4 separate regions of the Homo sapiens genome follow, and all the other regions are linked to region 1. The links come from fine-mapping of genetic effects on gene expression. A gene starts in region 1. Each other region holds a variant in brackets. All regions are shown on one strand. Distances are from middle to middle. Region 1 holds the start of TRERF1 (transcriptional regulating factor 1). Region 2 overlaps TRERF1 (transcriptional regulating factor 1). Region 3 overlaps TRERF1 (transcriptional regulating factor 1). Region 4 overlaps TRERF1 (transcriptional regulating factor 1).

Region 1 (5,146 bases):
TCCGAATAGGTTCCTTATCTGCCCCGGGGAGGAGTTTTAGATTAAGAGGGTGTGTGTGTGTGCTGGGAGGGAGGTGGAGGGGCTGAGTTTTCTGGGTGGTGCGGTTTTCCCAAGTCCCGTTTTGAGGTTTTGTCCTAGCCAGCTCCCGCTCAGGTCCCTGGGCGGTGACGGTGGTCAAGCTTAGCTTGGCTGTTCCTCCTCCGCTTGGAAAAAGGCCGCCACTGGGGCCAACTCCGGCCACAGCGCTGCTGCCAGGAGACCTAGGGTAGGTCTTTTCCCCTGAGGTAGAGACCTGGGTGTACCCTCAGGAAGGCATCTTGAAGTTACTGACAGTTGAGTCAAATCTTGAAGGTCCAGCAGGAGTTAGTAAGAAGAGGTGGAAGGGGAAAGGTTAGGCGCCCCCTCCTCCACCCCTTGAACAAAGAAAGCTTGACGGGGCTTACAATATCCGAGGAAGAGCTGGGCGGGTAGAGAGGTCTGTAGAGGCGAAATCACAACTTGGCTTTATTCTAAGGGCAATGGAAGAGGGTTTTGAAGGCTTTAAAATAATGTCATTAGGAGTTTTAGTCGCTTGGGAGGAATGGGTCGGAGGGGGACAGGAAGCTATCGCAGAAAGCAGCCCACTTGGAAGATGACCGAGGACTGAGGAAAGAGGGCGGGGGACATCGAGCATCTGAAGCCTTTCCCAGTCGCCGCAACACTGTGCGCTGTCCCTCGGCTTTCTTTGCTTATGTGGAAGGGCTCCATAAAGGGCTGGGCACGCGCCAAACGCTCATTAAGCGAAATAGCCCGGGTCCCCTCCTCTTTTCAGGGACTCTGTGGTCCACGTGCCCCAGAATTGGTAGGGTAGGCGGGAGGACTTTCCACTGCTGAAGATGGAGAACCGTTACCCCTCAAAAAACACAAAAACCTCGGGTGCTTTTGGCAGCAGTCTCCTCCGCTCATGACCTCATGCTTTAAGCTCCCATATAGCCTCCCTCCGCCCAATCCACACCCAGCGCCCGGGTGGGGGTGGGGTGGGGGACACTGGCGAAGGTCTGGGTAGCGGGAGGTCATTCTTCTTGCGCGACATTTTGGGGGAAGGGGCGCAATGATTTCCCCCACGGAAAAAAATGGATGGTGTAACTTTCTGTCGTGCAAAAAATACTGTCTTGCCCTCGAGACAGATGCCTCGAACCCGGCTCGAGGTGGTCTGTTTAGCTGAACTACCTTTGGTTCACGTTTCCTCTGACCAGGAAAGAAGCTTGGAAATGCAGGGGTCTCAGGCCAGGTTCCCTGACACCTGGGCCGACCACTGCCACGCCTTCTCGGGACCTGGGGGCCGTCCTGCTGTTGCCCTCCGCCCCCGCCCGCGCCGCGGAGGTTTGAACCTTCGGCTCGCCTTTCAGCCCGCGCCCTGCCCCCTGCTCGCAGCTGCTCCCGGTTTGGGTGCAGCGGTTTCCCCCGCAGAGGAGGAGGAGGAGACAGCGCGAGGGAGCGACTCCGGGCTCGGGTTTCCGCACCAATGCCGAGCAGCCCCGGGCGGCCCCCGGTGGCCGTCCCTCCTCCCCGGCACCACGTTCCACAGTCATGGCGCGCGAGGAGGGGCGAGCGCGCGCGGCGGCTGCACCCGCGCCCCCTCTCCTCCCCTCCCCTCCGCCGCCCGGCCCCTCTCCTAGGCAACCCCCCTCCCCGGCCTGCTGCGCCTGCCGCGGCAAGGGAGACCCCTCCCCAGAGAGCTGCTCTTCCAGCGCGGTCTACTGCACCCCTTCCCCGCCCCCATCGGGGCGGAGGGATGGAGACGCGCGCTTCGCGAACCTCCAGCCCCTTCTCCGGAGCCCCAGCCCTCTCCCAGCCCCACCGAGGCCAGGGTGCGGTGGGGGTAGGCGCGGACCGTCTCCTCGCAGCCCGCCTCGACCTCGGCATCTTTGCAAACACTTAGAAAAATAAACAAACCCCCTCACAAACCCCAGTCGTTAGCTTGCAAAGCGTGTTACAATAACCGGGACGGCTACGCAGGAAGCAATCCTGCACTGGTCCGGGTTTAAGGCGGCAGCTTCCCGGCCACGCTGCCTTCTCCCCGGCCTCGATTTTCCGGCCATGCCGGAGGGTCCGCTGCACCTCAGGGCTGACAGGTCCCGCTCGCGCAGGGCCGCAACTGGGCCCGTGTCCCCCGTCCCATCCTCGTCCAGAGACTCGCCAGCCTACAAAAGGTGCAACCTCACGCACACGCAAAGCGCACAAATAAAGTCAGCAGCGCACCGCCGCGAAGGCTGCGAACAATGCGCCGGGCGGCCCGCGCCCGCCGTAGCGCTGCGCCCCGGGGGAAAGGGGACGCGGGCGGGGGCCGAGGCGGACGACCAGCCGGTCGCGGCGCTGGACACCTTACTTCCTGCTTCCCCGCCCGCGGCCAGACCCAGCTCTGCGGAGGGATATCTCCCCTCCTCGGTCCCTCTCCCTCCCTTCCCCCTCCCTTCCCCCGCCCTCCCCCTCTTTTTGCTCCTGCTCCCCCCCCCCACCCCGCCTTTCTCCTTTTGCAAGAAAATAATTTGACAGTCGATTTGCTGACAAGGGAGGAATTTGCATCCTGGATTTAAAAAAAAAAAAAAGGCCGAGAGGAGCTTGGGAACGGTTGCTAGGGGTGGGTAATGGGTGAAAAAAGGGGGGTACCGGGGAGCGGATAAGGAGGGTTAAGGGAGGGGGCGAGGATGGGGAGCAATGCAAAGGTAAGGCCAGGTTACCGCGGCTCGGCCCCGAGTGGGCTGCGACCGGGGGAGGGGCGAGAGATACATATGTATTTCTGTCTCCCCAGCACACCCCCTTCCCTCTAAGCGATGGCTGAGAGGCGGTGCATGCAGATGGGGAGTAAGTTTCCTGAAGGGGAGGGTGGATGCACGCGCGCAGCCCGGCGCTGCAAATTTCCACTGGGGAGGGAGAACGGCTGGATGCGGAGAGTTTGGAGTTGCTTGCGGCGGAGGGCAGGAAGGGGAGCAGGGCTGGGAAAGGGGGCTGGCGGGCGCTATATCTGGGAGTAAGTTTCCAGCATCAGGAGAGCCTGCACGCTTGCTCACTAGTAAGTTTCTGGCCGGGGAGGGCGCATGGGGAGGAGGAGAGGGAGGGGTGCATGTATATAGAAGGGGGGAGGGGGGAGCAGATTTCCTGCGGGGAGGCTGAATGCATATGGAGAGTAGATTTCCTGAAGGGAGGGTGGAGGCGTAGACGGACCGAGTAAGTTTCTTGCTGGGGTGGTGGAGGAGGTGGTGGGTTGGTGCTTTGGAAACCCAAAGCTTCCTACCCTGGGTGGGGGAGCACACTCTTGTCGGGGGGACGAGGGGCCAGGTTCCCTGCTGGGGAGAGGGGCTTGCATCTGGGGAGTATGTTTCCTGGCGGAGCGATATTTGTTTACAGGCTGAGGGCAGTACAGTAAGTGAGTAGCGCTGAGAGAAGGCGGCTGACATAAATTAATATTGAAATTACTCCATCAGCTCTGCTCGCCCCCCATCTCACCCCCCAAGCGGATACTGGTCTTCTCGTCGGATTGCCCATGCACTTGTTGCAGAAACAGCCAAGGTAGGCAAGAAGCTTATTAAGTTTCATTTTTAAAAAATTAGTTTGGGGATGCTCCTCGAGAAGACGGGGGTGGGGCGAAGTGGGGAGGGAAGAGTGGGGAGACAGAAGGAGAAGTCTCCCCCCCCTTTACTTTCACTATGCAAGCAGGCCTTCTCCCTTCTTCCCTTCTTCCCTCTCCGGGCTGCACAGCATCCCAGCAAAGGGGGAGGGATGAGGTGGGCGCTATAATTGGCAACCCTGGCTTAAAGGTAGTGATGGTGGGCTTGCATTTGAGGTTGTGATGTTATAAAGGCTTCATTCTCCAGCTAAGAAACCGCAGGACTCTGCCTTTTGGGGTTTTTGACATGATACATATGTGTATGTATACGCGCCTGCGGGCTCTGTGGGGGCTGGGTACTCCCCAGAAGTTAGTGTGGCCACCCAGATGGGAGAAATGTGTAAGGGGGTAAACCTGTTCCTTCACTCCCCAACTTCAGTTTGGGAGACTGGGAAGTTACTGCCGGTGGTCTTAAGAAACAGATATTAAAAACCAACCAAACCACTCCTTCACCAGCGGAGGCCGAGAGCACCTGGCAGGCAGCCTCTGGCCAGCACTGGACTGGAGCATGTGCGCCTGCCATCCTTAGGTTACAAGAAAACGCTTTCTGGTTCCTCCGTGTGTCTTCTACCGGCCTGTTAGAGCCAGCTTTGTGGAAACTCTTCCCCAGACTAGACGCAGCTTTGGCAAGTGCCAGTACTGAAGGGGATGGCTTCAATTCAGCATGGCCTGGGCTGTCTTGTGAGTGCGTGGAAGTCGTGCTTAGGAATGACCGCCCCTGTAGTGGCTAAAGAGTTCATTAAAAAATATCTCCTGAAAACCGGTCCAGGTGCACTTTTCAGCAGGTCATTGAGGAGAGTTTTAAGAAGGGGAGTTTTAAGTTGTCCCAGTTAGCACCCACCTTCTGCATCACTGACCCTTTTAAGAAAGGAGTTTGGCGATAGGAAGTGTGGTGTTGATGCTCACTGACTGGAGAGGATAACAGCAGGAGTCCTCAGTGCTTAACTAGTTAACCAGCAGCCTTTGCCTCTCCTTGCCTCTGTTTTCTTGGTCCTCAGCCTACTGGTTTCTGCAGAAGAGTTGTAGGTCTTAGCTGTCAGCTACCTTGATGATGCTGGGAGTTTTAACTTTGCTAGGATAATTTTAGCATCTCGGGTCCAACCCGGAGACGTTTAGTAGGGTTAGGGAGTAGCCACTAGGCAGTGGGGTTAACTGAGGTTGGTTAAGCTTTCTGCAATTCTGTAGACAGGCTCTGTTCTAGCAGGGTCGAGAAAAATGGGTTTTAAAAAACTCGCTACACATTGCTGATGGAGAGTGCTTTTTTTCTTTCCTAACTGTCGTCAGATTTCCAGATTGAGGGTTGATATTTGGCAGTTTGAGAGTTGAGTTAGTTGGGAATTAAATATTATTGCTGCTTATCAAATGTTCCTAACTAGGCATTAGTTAAGCAAATTAGCTATTATTTTTACCTGATGAAAATCTGAGTCTGGTTGTTGTATTTGCTGGGAGGGTAAACAAAATCTTTATGTATGTTCATTCCAGGGTGGAATTATTTACATG
Region 2 (5,146 bases), 88 kb after region 1:
TGACGAGGTCAGGATTTGATCGCAGGCCTGACTCCAGTGCTCCTGTGACTTCAGCTAAGTCCTGAGGAGTACAATGCCCCTTTGGTTGCCCCTGGTTTGGGCAGATCCTGATTTCTTATGGGGCATCTTGGTGACAGCATCCCCTTGAAACCTGTGGTTTTCTCTCAGCCCCATGTTACCCAGATCTGCCTGTCTGCCTGGGGTGATCAGATGGCCCTTGAGTGTTTTGCTGATTTTCACCTTTCCCAGGCATCTCCCTCTTGTGGCTCTGGGAATCCCAGAATTGTTAGATGGTGGTCCATAGCTGGTGATCGAAGTGGATCAGTCCAGCTCCTCATTTCCCAAAATAGAATATTCTTTTTCCTGCTTCTGGTTGCCCAGTCCTGACTGTTCTGCCAGTCACCATGAGCTTCTCCACACAGCTGGATTTCTCACATTTCAAGCTCTCCCTTGAAGAAGGAAGAAGAGAGTATATCTATCTATGTCTACAAAAGCATGTGAAAGGGTGGTAAAGGAAGGACACCAAGACCTTGAATATGCAGGTGCAGGAAGAGGAGGGAGGAGCCAAACCCAGCCATCCTCCTCCCCGTTAGAGTGGATGTTAGGAGGTGCCGGACTCTGGTGCCTCCTGCACAGGAAGAATAGGTATGCCTCCCAGCTTCAAGAAGGCCCTGTGTCTCTTCACTTGGCCATCTTGGTTCTCCTACATTTTCTGAAAAACTTCTGGAATCATATCACCTGAGCATCAGAATTGTTCTGTGGATCAAATAACTGAGACACTGTGTTGAGCAGCGGGCAGTTGCAAGCATTGTCAATACACGATTCATTGCCCTCAAGAAGCTGGCAGTCCACATGGGCACAGGGAGCTCTTGCCCAGAGAAGCTAGATGCAGTGAGCTCAGAAGAGCCAGGAGAGCTTGGTAAGCTGGGTTGGTGCCACCCAGCAGACTGCAGGAGAGGGCTGGAGCTGGGTGGCCAGAGGGCAGAGCTGCAGGGGAGGAATGTGCTGGGTGTTAGGACCTTGACGGGGTGCATGGACTGGGCAGGGGATTACAGATGGGGTGAGCAGAGGTACGCATGGGAAACAAGATTGAAGAAGGAGATGTGCACCATTTATGAAGGATCCCAAGGGATGGCTGTGGAGCTTGGAATGTTCCTGTATTGAGGAGCCTCCAAAGCCAAAGCATGGAGCCGGGATTAGTAAATGCAATGCTGTAAGAAGATCCGTCTCGATTTGTGAACTGTAAATGGGCAGTGCTGGGAGGTAACTTAGGAGACATTTATCATGTCAAGAGTTAGGAATGAAATGTTGAGGACTTGGACTAGGGTGGTGGTAGTGTATGTAGAAAAGACGAGAGGGAAGTGGAAGGTTTCAAATCTTAGCTCTGCCACTTGCTACCTGTGTGCCCTTGAGCAAATTACTTCATCTCTTTCAACCTGTTTTGTCATCTATAGATAGAGGCTAAAAACACTTCACAGGACTCTTGTTTGAGGATTTTAACTTGTAACACACCCAGCACTTAGTAGGTGCTCAAGGAATAATGAATCTTCTCATGCGGGAAGAGGCATGGTTTTGTGACTGGGAGGGATTAGGGGAGTGGAGTATGAGGTTCTGAGTCTGGGAGCCCGGGAGAATGATGAAGCCTTCACAGAAAGAGATGGAACTGCTTGGGGCCTTTGAATTCAGCTTTAGGAACTTCTCCTCCTAAACCCTGGCTACTGAGGGCTGTCACAGAAAACCCCACATCCATGCAGATTGTGCCTCTACGAAACCACGGCCTCTGGCTAGAGCAGGGCCCTCTGGGATACTGGCCAGCAGCTGGCTGTCTCCAGTCAGGGTGTGGACTAGGGTGAGAGAGTAAGCCACCTAGGGCAGAAACGTCAGGAGGTGCTGGGTTTCAGGGCCACGCCCGCACTTGATACCCACAGTGGGACGTGCACCCCAGCCTCCTCTCCTGTCTGCCCTTCACCACTCAGGAGACAACCTGGCTTCTGTGTTCACTGAAAATATTACTCCACGGCGAGCCCACTCAGGTTCCCACCTGCCCTCCTGTGTGCTGACCTGCATCTGGGCTCGTTCCCACCTGGTTTCCTTGCACTCAGAGAAAGAGACATCCTTCCTCCTGGCCAGAGAGAACCCTCTCCCTGGACAGGGATCCCCATGCTTCCTGCGGCCCCTGGGACCTCACGCCTCAGTCCTGCAGCAGCAACTTCCTCAGCCCTTCACACCCCTCAGCCTTACCTTCTCTTTTCTCCTCCCCTTACAGATGGATGTGTGGAAATAATCTGCCTTCGCTAACATAGCCCACGCAGGCTGGCCTCCACTGGTGGGGGCTTATGCCTGGTCCAGAGCAGGGACCCGGTGGGTTTGCTGCAGAGGCCTCCTGCCTTCTGCAGGGGCTGCCCTCTCTAAGGTCACCCACGGCTTCCATGTTGCCACACACAACGGACACTTCAGTCCTTATCTGTCTGGGCTCTTTGCTGCTTTTGACACTGGACAGCTTCCTCCTTCTTGCAACTCTCTTTTCTCTTGGCTTCTTTGATTCCATCATACAAAGTCTTTCAACAGCTATTTCTTGAGCACCTACTATGTGCCAGGCTCTGGGCACACCATAATACGATGTCCCTGCTCTCAGGGAATTTACAGTCTAAGGGAAGTGGGGAAAGGGGGATGAAAAAAATAATAAATGTCAGGTGGTAATAAGGGTTGCAAAGAGAAATACAACAGGGAAGGAGGCTAGGAAGGGGGCCGGGGTTTGAGGTGGGCCTCACTGCAAAGGACGTGAGAGCAGAAACCTGTAGGAAGTGACAGATGCCTGGGGGAAGAGTGCTCCAGGGATGGGGAAGAGCAAGTATGGAGGGCTGAGGCAGGAGCCTGCCTGGATGTTTGAGGAAGCCATTGTGGCTGGAGGAAATGGAGGAAGGGCAGAGTAGGAGGAGAAGAGGTCAGGTGTCTCAGTCCATCAGGGAGGAGGCCCAGCCAAGTCATGTGGAC[T/C]GTGGCCATTTCAAGGACTTTGGCTTTTACTTTGATACAGATGAAATACTACAGGAGTGTTCTGAGCAGAAGAGTGATTTTTAAATGATCACTTAGGCTGCTCTGGGGAGCATGCTGTATTTGTTAGCTTGGGCTGCTATAACCAAGTACCACACACTGGGTGGCTTAAACCACAGATTTATTGTCTCACAGCTCTGGAGGCTGCAAGTCCAAGATCAAGGTGTTGGCAGGGCCATGCTCCTCTGGAGACTCCAGGGAAGGGTCTGTTTCGGGCTCCTTTCCAACTCTGGGTAGCTTCTTGGCTTGTGGCAGAAAACCTCCAATCTTCCAAATATCCCCTTTTTATAAGGACACCAGAGTCATTTTGGATTAGGAACCCCCATCCTACTTCAGTAGGACCTCGTCTTAACTATTTATATCATCAATGACCCTGTTTCCTAATATGACATCTTCAATGACCCTGTCTCCTAATATGCCACATTCTGAGATCCTAGGGGTCAGGATGTCAACATAGGAATCTTGGGGAGACACAGTTCAACCCCCAAGACATGGTTATAGAAAGGTGAGGGGAGGAGTGGGACAACTAATTAGGGGGTTATCACAATAACCTAATGAGAGATGCTGCTTGCTTGGACTAAAGTGGTACCAGTGGAGGTGTCGAGAAACGGTGAGGGTCTGGATATTACTTTACGTTGAAGCTGGCGTCCTTTGCTGATGGATTAGACGTGGGGTGTGAGGGAAAGAGGAAAGCCATGATGACTTGGGTTTAGAGCCTGAATAACCAGAATGAAGTTGAACGTCTTGGTCTCCTAAGTCCTCTTCTCCCCCGGGACCTTCCTCAGCAGCCTTTGCTGGGTCCTCGTCCTGGGTGGGCCCATCAGCTGCTGGGTTCTTCAGGGCTCCATCCCAGGTCACTCCTCCGACCTCTCCCTGATTGATACTCACTGTTCCCATGCTGAAGCCAGATGTCCTGACTGTGCTCTTTGGGTCACTCCTGCAGGCCCTGGCTGTGGAGAATGCTGAAGGAAGAAGACGCAGAAGCAGGACGACCCTGAAAGATTCAGCCTCTTCATCCTCAAACAGGTCGCTTCTCGGGAGTTCTTGGTGTTGGAATATTTTACAGCAAAGCAGTCGTAAGACCATTTCTTGGACCCATATGGTGTGGAGAATGCCCCAGGAAGTGGAGGAGGGCTGCTCTGGGCCTGGACATCCATTAATTTCTAGAAAATTTTCTCTGGGAAATGGTCAGGGATTGTGGATTCACATAATGGTTTTTGGCAGCTTCTGGAATGGGGCGGAGGGTGTCTCTTGATTTTGCAGAGTTGTAAATAGTTGAGGATCCAATGGATGTCCATGGATGGTAGTTCTAGAAGTGTTTAGAAGGATTTAAAAATGTCTGGGATGCAGTGGAGGTGTAGAAGGCCACTGTGGGAAGCTCCACAGAGCCTGCCAGAGGCGGATTGCTGGACTCAGGAGCCTTAGCTGGCCCTGGGGCATTCCTCGCGTTTTTATCAGGTCTGGCCTCATGATCCCTTCCATTCTCAGTTTGTCCCTCCATAAAATGGGCATACAGCTATGATTCCTCTGCCGGGCCTCCCACAAGCTGTTTCAAGGGTCAGTAGTTTGTGCATAAATAGAATTTTAAGCTTTTATTTCAGGTGTAAACCCTGATCCGGCAAGAGATGGCTCCATCCTCCACACATTCTTGGCGACAGTGGGGAAGGGGGGTGGTATCTGATTTGATTATTTCGGTGTGTGTGGTTTTGTTTTCTTGGCATGTGCCACGCTTTCCATTCCTCCTGTATGAGGCTCAGAATTGATTGCTTCGGTTTCTTTTTTATTGTGCCTGATTCTGATTTAATTTTAAAGCCATTGTGTCTCGGGGTTCCAGTCGGAAACACGTGGCTCGTGCAAATGGGGTAATTGAAGAGCGTCTACTGAAGGGAGTCTTTATAAGGATGCAGGCAGAGTTAAGAGAAGCCAAGAAGGGATGCTGAAGCACCCAGGGCCAGCAGTGTCAGGGAGCTGTTACTGTGCCTGGAAGGAAGAGGGAGGGACTGGCTGTCGGGATGGGAAACAGGAGCTGGAGAGGTGTCCCTGGTAGAGGAATGCAATCAACCTACAGCAGCATGGCCAGGAAGGAGCCAAAAGA
Region 3 (5,146 bases), 78 kb after region 1:
TGCACTCCAGCCTGGGTGACAAGAGCAAAACTCTGTCTCAAAAAAAAAATTGTTTTTATTTTTTAAAAGTTAGCTAGAGGAGGCCAGGTGCGGTGGCTCACGCCTGTAATCCCAGCACTTTGGGAGGCTGAGGTGGGCAAATCATAAGGTCAAGAGATTGAGACCATCCAGGCCAACATGGTGAAACCCCGTCTCTACTAAAAATACAAAAATTAGCTGGGCGTGGTGGTATGTGCCTGTAGTCCCAGCTACTCGGGAGGCTGAGAAAGGAGAATCGCTTGAACCCGAGAGGCAGACGTTGCAGTGAGCTGAGATCACGCCACTGTACTCCAGCCTGGCGACAGAGTGAGACTCTGTCTCAAAAAAAAAAAAAAAAAAAAAAAAAGAATTAGACGAAAAGTCATGAAGGTTTCAACATTTAACCCTCTCCCCTCTGCCCTTCTGGGTGTTGATTCAGCACAGGAGCAGCCTTCTGCCTTCCATGTGCATCTCCCTCTTACTCCTGTCTCTCCCCTACCCCAGCCACAGATCATCTCTCAGACATCCCTCACGCAAAGCCTGTTTTCCAGGAACGATCCTCTGGAAGCATTCATGCTAAGCGGATATGTGGCTGCTAAGACTTAGCCTCTCCAAGGCATTTGCATATTAGCTTATAAAAGGAGAAACCTTTTAGGTGAGAGGAATGAACGTTTAATTTTAGAATTCCAAGTAAGAGCAAGCATGTGTGAAAGGTTTTTATTTTGTTTGGGGTGGGAGTGCTCAGTGCCCTGGAACTGGGGGTGGCCAGGCCCCCTTCACACTGATTGGGCTGACCCCAACATCTGGGGAGCTTGGTGGTGAGTGGTAGGCCGAGAAACATCCCCTTCAGGACAAGCAGTTTCCCCCAGACCCAGCCACACCGCCTTCACATTTCCTAAAGGGGGGACATTGTGACTTGTGAGGCTGCCAGGAGGAGACAGCTTCTAATCGGGTTTCATTTCTTCTGTTTAATGTGCTTGGTTTTTGAATCAAGGGGGCCCCATTTGAGACAAGCCCCTTGCCTGGTTCTTATCTGCTCTGGCCCCTGTGAAGTTCACTTCTGCTTGCCCTTGTCCAGGGGTTCTCCAGGCTCCCACTTCCCTCTTTACACCTCCTGCACCTTCCCTCTCCTTCCCCATAGTGATCGTGATCACAGCCCCCCATAGTAATCACAGCCGCAGTCTTCAAGACCAGTTTAGTTCAGGCTTCTTCACCCATCTTTGAGAATCCTCTTTAGTCAGTCAGTGTGTAGCCTTCCTCCTTCATGTTCTTCGTGGTCCCTGGACCCTGAGACTTTTGTCTTAATCGCCTTTGGAACTTTAGTGCCTGGCATGGTGCTTGGACATAGTAGACACTTAATAAATGCTTTTGGACTGCACAAAACCAAGGCTGTGTTTGGCCCTGTGAGGGCATGAGGAGCAGCGAAATCAGCAAGAGAGGTGACGAGACAGCTGTCAGCCTCAGGCATTTCTTGCTAAGAGAGGAGGAACTAGCATTTGTGTGGATAAAGAAGAGGCTCCTCTGAGCTTCATGTGCATGGGATGATGAGCAAAGGGTGGCTCCGGAGCTGCTCCACAGAGCGGTGGCTTTCATGGAGTATCCAATTCTGCAGGATCTCTTGGATTTCGGGCTTGCATCTTCAGCCAGAAGGCATCTTCATGAACAGGTGTTTATGAAGTGCCTACCATATGCCAGGCACCCATCTAGAGCCTGTGACTTTGTTGGCGCCCCATTGTGTGATGGACTTGGAAGAACACAGAAGGCCCTGCCTGGGCTGGGACAGTCGCTTTACCCTGAGCTTCCTGGGTTTCTTCCAGCTTCCAGGGGTGTTAATTTCCCGTATAATTACTTTTGGGCAAAACACATTGGTGCTTATGTCTTTTTTTTTTTTTTTTTTTTTGACAGAATCTTGCTCTGTTGCCCAGGCTGGAGTGGTGCAACCTTGGCTCACTACAACCTCCATCTCCCAGGTTCAAGCAATTCTCATGCTTCAGCCTCCTGAATAGCTGGGACCACAGGTGCACGCCACCACACCCGGCTAATTTTTTGTATTTTTTTAGTAGAGACAGGGTTTTACCATGTTGCCCAGAGTGGCCTCGAACTCCTTAGCTCAGGCAATCCACCCATGTCAGCCTCCCAAAGTGCTGGGATTGCAGGTGTGAGCCACCACACCTGGCCAGGTGCTTATGTCTTAAACACTGCCGTTCACATTTCTACCTCTGAGGAGATGGTAGGGGGTGAGGGTAGGACCGGGCTGTCCTCTCAGCCCCATCTATCTGGTAGGTGGATGTAGGTCTTGCTCTGTCAGTCAGAGCTCTGGCAGGAAATGACTGGTACACACAGAGGGTTTAACTGGAGAGGACTATTTACAGATGTGTGGGCATGGTGAGGGAAACCATCTAAGGCTGGTGAGGCTCCCCAGAGCTGACAACAGTGGGAAGCTATTACCTCCCCTCGGCCAGAAGGAAGGAGCCCCAGGGATGGGTAGAAAGGGCCTCGACAACAGCTGTGATGGTGACGAGACACAACCACTGTCAAACTGTGGTGAAGAGGAGGAAGGGGGAATAAATGCTCTCACTTTAACTAAATCCAGCTGGAAGCCCAGAGAGCCCAGCTGATATAGCCAGTGGTCCAGGAAGGGCAGAGAACAGAGTGTGTAGGGGCAAGCTGCACACACCCGCCCCCGGCTGCCTGGGCATTCTAAGGCTTAGCAGGCTCTTCCCCTTCTTCTTCTTCTTCTTCTTCTTCTTCTTTTTTTTTTTTTTTAAAAAAAAGACAGAGTCTCACTTTGTTGCCAGGCTGGAGGGCTATGGTGCCATCTCGGCTCACTGCAACCTCCGACTCCCTGGTTCAAGCAATTCTCCTGCCTCAGCCTCCTGAGTAGCTGGGATTACAAGCACGTGCCACCACGCCCAGCTAATTTTTGTATTTTTAGTAGAGACAGGGTTTCACCATGTCGGCCAGGATGGTCTCAATCTCCTGACCTCACGGTCTGCCCACCTTGGCCTCCCAAAGTGCTGGGATTACAGACGTGAGCCACCACGCCCGGCCTTTTTTCTTTTCTTTCTTCTTCTTTTTTTTTTTTGCTCTTGTTGCCCAGGCTG[G/A]AATGCAATGGTGCAATCTTGGCTCACCGCAACCTCTGCCTCCCAGGTTCAAGCGATTCTCCTGACTCAGCCCCCTGAGTAGCTGGGATTACAGGCATGTGCCACCACGCCTGGCTAATTTTTTTTGTTTTTTTAGACGGAGTCTCACTCTGTTGCCCAGGCTGGAGTGCAGTGGCGCCATCTCGGCTCACTGCAAGCTCCGCCTCTGGGGTTCATGACATTCTCCTGCCTTAGCCTCCCGAGTAGCTGGGACTACAGGTGCCCGCCACCACACCCAGCTAATTTTTTGTATTTTTAATAGAGACGGGGTTTCACTGTGTTTGCCAGGATGGTCTCGATCTCCTGACCCCATGATCCACCCGCCTTGGCCTCCCAAAGTGCTGGGATTGCAGGTGTGAGCCACCGTGCCCAGCCTAATTTTGTATTTTTAGTAGAGACAGGATTTCTCCATGTTGGTCAGGCTGGTCTTGAACTCCCCACCTCAGGTGATCCACCCACCTGGGCCTCCCAAAGTGCTAGGATTACAGGCGTGAGCCACCGCACCCAGCCTCTTCCCCTTCTTAGGTGACTCAGGATGTGCCCAGTCCACCAGTGCTCCCTTCTTCACAACACTGTGGCTGTTAGAAAGAAGAAAGTGCCCCGGCCACACCAGCAGGATGGCCACTGGTATTTTGACTGTAGCAAGAATAACAAATTATATTTATTGACAGCATTTTATGTGCATCCTCTCATTAAATCTTTACAACAACCATAGCATGGGTACCCTGATTATCCTTGTCTTCATCCTGTTACTGAGGAAAAATGTGGAGCTGAGAGAGGTTAGCAAGCTACCCAGTTGCTCAGCTAGCCAGAGGTAGAGTTGAGCTCAGACCAATTCTGACGTGACTCCCGAACACACACTCTTACCCTTTGCCTGACTCAGGGTCTCATTCCTCCGTAGTGGGGCCCCACCCACCCTGTGGTCAGTGCCACGTGTGTGCTGGCCCACTGCTTGGGATGGTCTTCCTACTTCCTCTCCAGTTGACCCCATTGAACCCATTTTTTGAGACCCAACTCAGATCTCACTTCCTCTGAGACCTTCTCATCCCTCTCCATCTCTCTATTAGGCATCAGTGGCAGGCGATTCTCTGCCATCCCTTGGGATGTTGTCTGGCTGTTTTGAGTGTGCGCATCTCCAAAGTCTCCAATGAGAATCCAGCTTTCTTAGGTGCGAATCCTAGGTCGTGAGTTTTCTTTCACTCAAAAGGTTTAGTTGAAGAGACTTTAAGTTAGTTAGGGGGAAGGGAACTGACTGGGAGGATACAGCACCCAGAGACTGGACTCTAAGTGGTCACAGGGGAATGGTCCTGTGGGGGGAAGCCATTGCCACTCTGAGGCCTGAAGGAACTCCATTGGAAAGAACTGTCCCTGTAGCCCAGTGAGAGCCGTAGCTGTTGGACAGAAGCCTCATGTAGGAGCTGATGGGTTTGAGAACTGGCTTTCTACTTGGTTAGTAAGAGCTCAACAAAAGCCAACAGGGAGGACTTTCTTTAAGGCAAATGAAGAACAGAAGCTAGAGCTGACTCTAGTAGGAGCTTACAGTCTAGTTGAGGGGTTTTTGTTTTTGTTTTTGTTTTTTGAGACTGAATTTTGCTCTGTCACCCAGGCTGGAGTGCAGTGGCTTGATCTCGGCTCACTGCAACCTCTGGCTTCTGGGTTCAAGTGATTCTCATGCCTCAGCCTCCTGAGTAGCTGGGATTACAGGCACCTGCCACCATGCCCGGCTAATTTTTGTATTTTTAGTAGAGACGGGGTTTCACCATGTTGGCCAGGCTGATCTCGAACTCCTGACCTCAAGTGATCCACCCTCCTTGGCCTCCCAAAATGCTGAGATTACAGGGATGAGCCACTGCGCCCAGCCTTAGTTGAGATTTTGAGGGAGGGAAAACAGGCACATACCTCCTACTTAAACAGAACAGTGCTGCTACAGGGCAAGATTTCCCCCTGAGCAGATGAGCTTGCCATATACAAGCACAATGTGGGGG
Region 4 (5,146 bases), 140 kb after region 1:
AAAGTCCCCTTAGGAGGGCAACAATGAAGAAAAGGTGGAGAAACACTGCCACAGGCCTATGAGGACTCTTCATTCAGGTGGAAGGGAAACAGAAGATGGAGAAGGCTCACCTGCTTCTTAACCACCTTGGCCCAAAAGCGATACAAGTTACTTGGCCCACATTTCATTGGAGAGAACTGGTCAGGGAGTTCCACCTTGCTGCAGGAGGAGATGGGAAATGTAGTCTCTGGCTGGCCACACTTCAGAGTACTTCTAAGTGAGGACTCTTAGCCAAAGAAGGGAGAGCATCTATTTTGGAGGATGGTTGGCCTCCCAATACAGGAATCAAACAATGTTGTCTTCAAGGACCAGGTACTACATATTTTGGGCTTGCAGCCATGGTCTCTATTGCAGCTACTGAACTCTGCTTGTTGCAGCTGAAAGCAGCCATAGATAATACTGAAATGAATGGGTGTGGCTATGTTCTAATAAAGCTTTATTTACATAAACAGGCAGCGGATTGGCCTTCAGGCTGTAGTTGTCCAGCCCCTGAGTATCCATTCTGGAGCCTTTCAGTTGTCCACATTACCTCTGCTTCTTGGGACCTAACCCACATTTCCTTTACTTCCAGTGCCTAACTAGAGCCTGGAGCTTCCTCTTAACTGAATGAAGGGTTCGTCTTGGCTGTTTCACTGAAAACAGTGGAATATGACCCTCCACCAAGTGAAGTGTAGAGATCCCAAGACTGTAGAAAAGAAAGAAATTTTGTCTATGTCAGTCCAATGTTAGCCCTCCCCACAGCCACCCTACATGGTAGGGGTAGAGTGCCTGGCACTCATTATTAAGTGCTCAGAAATTTCCTGTATTCAGTGTTGGGGGCTGGTTTAAAACTACTTGTATTCAGCGAAATAAGACCTTGGAGAATATGGACCTCTATTTCTTGTAGCGTTAGAGTGGATTATTATTCAATGGTTAAAACTAGTATTTACAAAGAGCTTTTTTTTTTTTTTGGAGACAGAGTCTCGCCCTGTTACTCAGACTAGAGTGTAGTGGGGTGATCTCGGCTTACTACAACCTCCACCTCCCAAGTTCAAGCGATTCTCCTGCCTCAGCCTCCCAAGTAGCTGGGATTACAGGCGCCTGCCACCACGCCCAGCTAATTTTTGTATTTTTAGTAGAGACGGGGTTTTGCCATGTTGGCCAGGCTGGTCTTGAACTCCTAACCTCAGGTGATCCGCCTGCCTCGGCCTCCTGAAGTGCTGGGATTACAGGTGTGAGCCACCGTGCCTAGCCTAGAACTTTTAACAACATGACAAAATGCTTATTTTATAAGCAGGATTCAAAATTATGTATACAATATAATCTCAACTATATCTTAAAAAGTTTAGCAAAAAAAAAAATAATTCTCAACAAGTGATGGAGTTTTTCTTCTTTTTATTTTGTATCTGTTTTCTAAAATTTTTACAGTGAACATGTTTTAGATGTGGAGAAGACTGTTATTTTAAAAATTATTGAGGTCTGGGAGCTCACGCTTGTAATCCCAGCACTTTAGGAGGCCAAGGCGGGAGGCTTGCTTGAGCCCAGGAGTTCAAGAGCAGCCTGGGCAACAAAATGAGACCCTGTCTCTATAAAAAATTTTTTAATTAGCCGGGGATAATGGTGCGCACCTGTAGTCCCAGCTTCTTGAGAGGTTGAGGTGGGAGGATTGCTTGAGCCTGGGAGGTTGAGGCTGCAGCAAGCCATGATCATGCCACTGCACTCCAGCCTGGGCAACAGAGCAAGACTCTGTCTCAAAACAAACAAACAAACAAACAAAAACTACTGAGGAGGAAATTAGTGCTGAGTGAGGGTATAATTACCCAACAGGTTCTTCCTTCCTCCTGCACAGACAAAACCAATTCACTGAGACCACAGTATTGTAGTAGACAAACAGTTTAAGGCAGAGCCAGCCAAGCAGAAAGACTGGAGTTATTACTCAAATTGGTCTCCCAGAGAACTCAGAGGCTAGGGTGTTCTACGGATAATTTTGTGGACAGGGGAATG[G/A]GAGCTGCTGATTGGTGAAGGTTGAAATCGTAGGGGTGTGGAAAATGGTCCTTGTGTGCTGAGTCAGCCTCTACATTAGGGGGCCACAGGACAGGTTGTCATGAGTCCCAGGTCCAGGTAGAGTCAGATGGTTGCCAGAATGCAAAAGTCTGAAAAGCATCTCAAAAGACCCATCTTAAGTTCTACAATAGTGATGTTATCTATAGGAGCAATTGGGGAAGTCACAAATCTTGTGACCTCTGGCCACATGACTCATGAGTAGCAAGGGATTATAAAAAGGCAAGCTGGGGGCGGTGGAGGGGAATGGCTGGTTATCCTTTAGCTACACCTACATGTTAGCAGAATTCAGGCCCCTCCCATAATCCTAATCTTGTGGCCTTTCATTACCAAGACAAAGGCGATTTTGGTCCCTGAGCAAGGAGGGGGTTCGTTTCAGGGAGGGACTGTTATCATCCTTGCTTCAAAGTTAAAACAATAAACTAAATTCCTCCCATGGTTAGCTTGGTCTACACCCAGGAATGAGGGAGGACAGCTGGCTTGTGAGGCTAGAGGCAAGATGGAGTCAGCCATGCTAGACTCCTGTCACTGTCATAATCTTTGCAAAGGTGGTTTCAAGAGTATTAATGAAGGTGTCTGCCTGCTTGTGCACACATAAGCAGGCACCTGAAAATGCCATCCAAAATTTTGTTAGAACAAAGTCACTATGAGGCAGTCCCCTTCATCTGTCCTCCCCAAGTTAGAAAAGCTTCTTTGGATAGTGACCAGGAAGGGTTCTGACCTGCCTCTACATTGAGGCATTTTTCTCATTTCTTAGTAATGAGACCCTCACCTAGATTTTCTTTCCACTGAGGCAGACCAGCCTCTCTGGATGAATCATCAAGATTAGCAATGCGGGGAGGAGGAGGTGCATGCTTGGGGTTAACTGCGTGCCAGAGTCATTGGTCATCACAGCCACTTCCCCAGACCCATGGACTTTCTTGACTTTGGCGGAGAAATTAAATAACTTGTGACTCGAAATGTCATTTGTGTAGACCCATTAGCCAGGCAGCCTGACGTCCAGGTGCCCCCACCCCCAGTGGAGCAGAGAACAACTCATTCTGCAGGAAGAACCAAATCTGAGATCATCCCAAAACAGCCTCTTATTTTTTAGGCCTCCCTTGGGTCCTCATGTGCATCTTCCAGGTACCGTGAGGGTAGGTGTGGGGGTCCTCTCCCCTGAAAGGAGAGCACCCCCACCCAAGTCCCTCCTCTTCAGCCTCTGCCTGTGTTTCTGCTGGTGATGTCCTTCTTGAGCCTTGAGCTGTCTGCACACTGGTCCCAACCTGTGCCTTCCACACTGCTCAGACTTGCAGCGTTCTCCAGCCCTCAGACACTTCACTATGACGTTAGGGGGTGGCAGTGGGTGGGGGGGGGGGTGGTGTTCCTCTCCCCAACCCTGACCCAGGGGCCCCACCTGGTCTCTTGAAGGATATCAGCTGCTAGAAGACAGCCCGATGGCCCCCCTTCATTTGACCTCCTTTGTCTCTACTCCAGGAGCTCCCTCTTAGCTCCAAGTTAGGTTAGGGTGACCTCGTCACAGCCTCTTTGCCTCTACCCCTGCTTCTGTGCTCTAAGCGCCGATCCTAGCGCCCTTCTCTTTCATCCCAATGTGCCATACTCTAGACCTGGATGTGCCACGTGTAAGGATCACACTCCAGCAGGCACGAGGCATTAGAAAGTCCTTGGCATGTGCTTCTGTGAGCACCCAGACTTCTTACTGTGACTTGTGAGGCCCTGCACCAGGGTTTGTCAACCTTAGTGCTATTGACATTTGGAGCTAGTGAATTCTGTCTTGAAAGGGACTGTCCTGCACATTGTAAGATGTTTAGCAGCATCTCTGCCCACCAGGTGCCAATAGCACTTCCCTAGTCGTGACACAGAAATGTTTCTAGACACTGCCAAATGTCCTCTGGAAGGCAAAATCACTCCAGGTGGAGACCACTACCCTACATAATGGAGACCCCGTCCTACCACGCTGCCTCATCCCACCCACTGCACACCTGCCACATGCACGCTCATCCCTGCCAGAGCCACTGCACTCGCTGTCACCACTGCTGTGAACGTTCTCTCCTCACATCTTCATGCTTTGCTCATTTAGGTCTCAGCTCAACTGACACCTCCTTACCTTGGCCTTTCCTAAGCACCCTATGCGACCAACCTATTCGCTCCATCAAGTTTATACTTCTGTTTTGTTTTAAAATCACGTTTAGAATCTCTGACCTTGTTCCTACTGCTTTCCTCCTGGTTTTCACTGTCCCAGCCACACCCTTCTAATTCCTCAGTCACATCCGGCATGTACCCACCACAGGGCTCTTGCTGTTCCTCCTCCTAGAATGCTCTTTCCCCAGATCTCATTGTTCTTATTCCTTCAGGCATTTGCTCAGATGTCACCTTCTCAGAGAGGGCTTCCCTGACTATTTCCTACTTTGTTTTTTCCCATAGCATCTACAGCCATCTAATACACTATACACTTTAATTATAATAATTTTTATTTTCTGTTTCTCCCTATTAAAATGAAATCTCCATGAGGGCAGGGAGTTTTGTCTTCTTTGTTCACTGTTGCGTGCCAGTCACGGAGAACAATGCCTAGCATTGAGGCACTCGGCCAGTATTTTTTTAGATGCATGAGCTTAATTTTGCAAGGCTTGCTGGGACCTCTGCCCTAGTTTAACTGTGCACATTTGAAAGCATCGGGTGAGCTTGGCTTCTTGTTGTAAAACCAGGGATTTATGTTGATGAAGAGTTCGATCAGGGTAGACTCATACTCTAAAGCATGTTTTCTTGTGAATAGAGATGTTTACAAAGCACAAAGCAGTGAATTTGCTAATAGTTCTTTTTACTGGCATCAGCTAGGGTTCTGAATTTAGCTGAAGCTTATACTTACCATGCCATGGTGGAGGTTTTCATTTCCTAATATGTACATGCATTTGTCTAAAAGTAATTAGTTTGTCTTCAGTTATGAGCCACAAGAGGTCAGGACCACCACTATGGCACCTCTCCAGAAAGGGGCGTGCCTGATAAGCACAAAAAAAAAACCCTTTAGGGCCGCACCTCCAGCTGTTCCCTGTTTCCCAGGATCTTGTTT

The links. PIP is the estimated chance that this variant, and not a neighbour inherited with it, causes the effect.
Region 2: its variant is fine-mapped to the expression of TRERF1 in thyroid (GTEx, PIP above 0.99).
Region 3: its variant is fine-mapped to the expression of TRERF1 in whole blood (TOPMed, PIP above 0.99).
Region 4: its variant is fine-mapped to the expression of TRERF1 in whole blood (TOPMed, PIP above 0.99).

The regions. Positions count from the first base shown.
Region 1 is chr6:42,449,580-42,454,725 of GRCh38, reverse strand. TRERF1 (transcriptional regulating factor 1) reads left to right here and starts at 2,800. Exons shown (of 18, transcript NM_001395490.1): 1 at 2,800-3,052; 2 at 3,465-3,549. LOC124900214 (arf-GAP with GTPase, ANK repeat and PH domain-containing protein 2-like) reads right to left here and starts at 2,366. Exons shown (of 4, transcript XM_047419627.1): 1 at 444-2,366. The coding sequence starts at 1,905. The coding sequence ends at 808. LOC107986596 (a long non-coding RNA gene) reads right to left here and starts at 2,366. Exons shown (of 5, transcript NR_171668.1): 1 at 2,101-2,366; 2 at 444-509. RefSeq lists silencers at 1,346-1,785, 2,256-2,335.
Region 2 is chr6:42,361,928-42,367,073 of GRCh38, reverse strand. It overlaps TRERF1 (transcriptional regulating factor 1), which reads left to right. Exons shown (of 18, transcript NM_001395490.1): 3 at 3,995-4,077. Among named protein-coding and RNA genes, the nearest start is that of TRERF1, 87 kb to the left of the region's middle. The variant T/C (reference allele first, on the strand shown) is at 2,995.
Region 3 is chr6:42,371,776-42,376,921 of GRCh38, reverse strand. The region is part of intron 2 of TRERF1 (transcriptional regulating factor 1); the gene reads left to right. Among named protein-coding and RNA genes, the nearest start is that of TRERF1, 78 kb to the left of the region's middle. The variant G/A (reference allele first, on the strand shown) is at 3,123.
Region 4 is chr6:42,313,998-42,319,143 of GRCh38, reverse strand. The region is part of intron 3 of TRERF1 (transcriptional regulating factor 1); the gene reads left to right. Among named protein-coding and RNA genes, the nearest start is that of MRPS10, 99 kb to the right of the region's middle. RefSeq lists enhancers at 2,405-2,494, 3,085-3,144, 3,213-3,880. The variant G/A (reference allele first, on the strand shown) is at 2,023.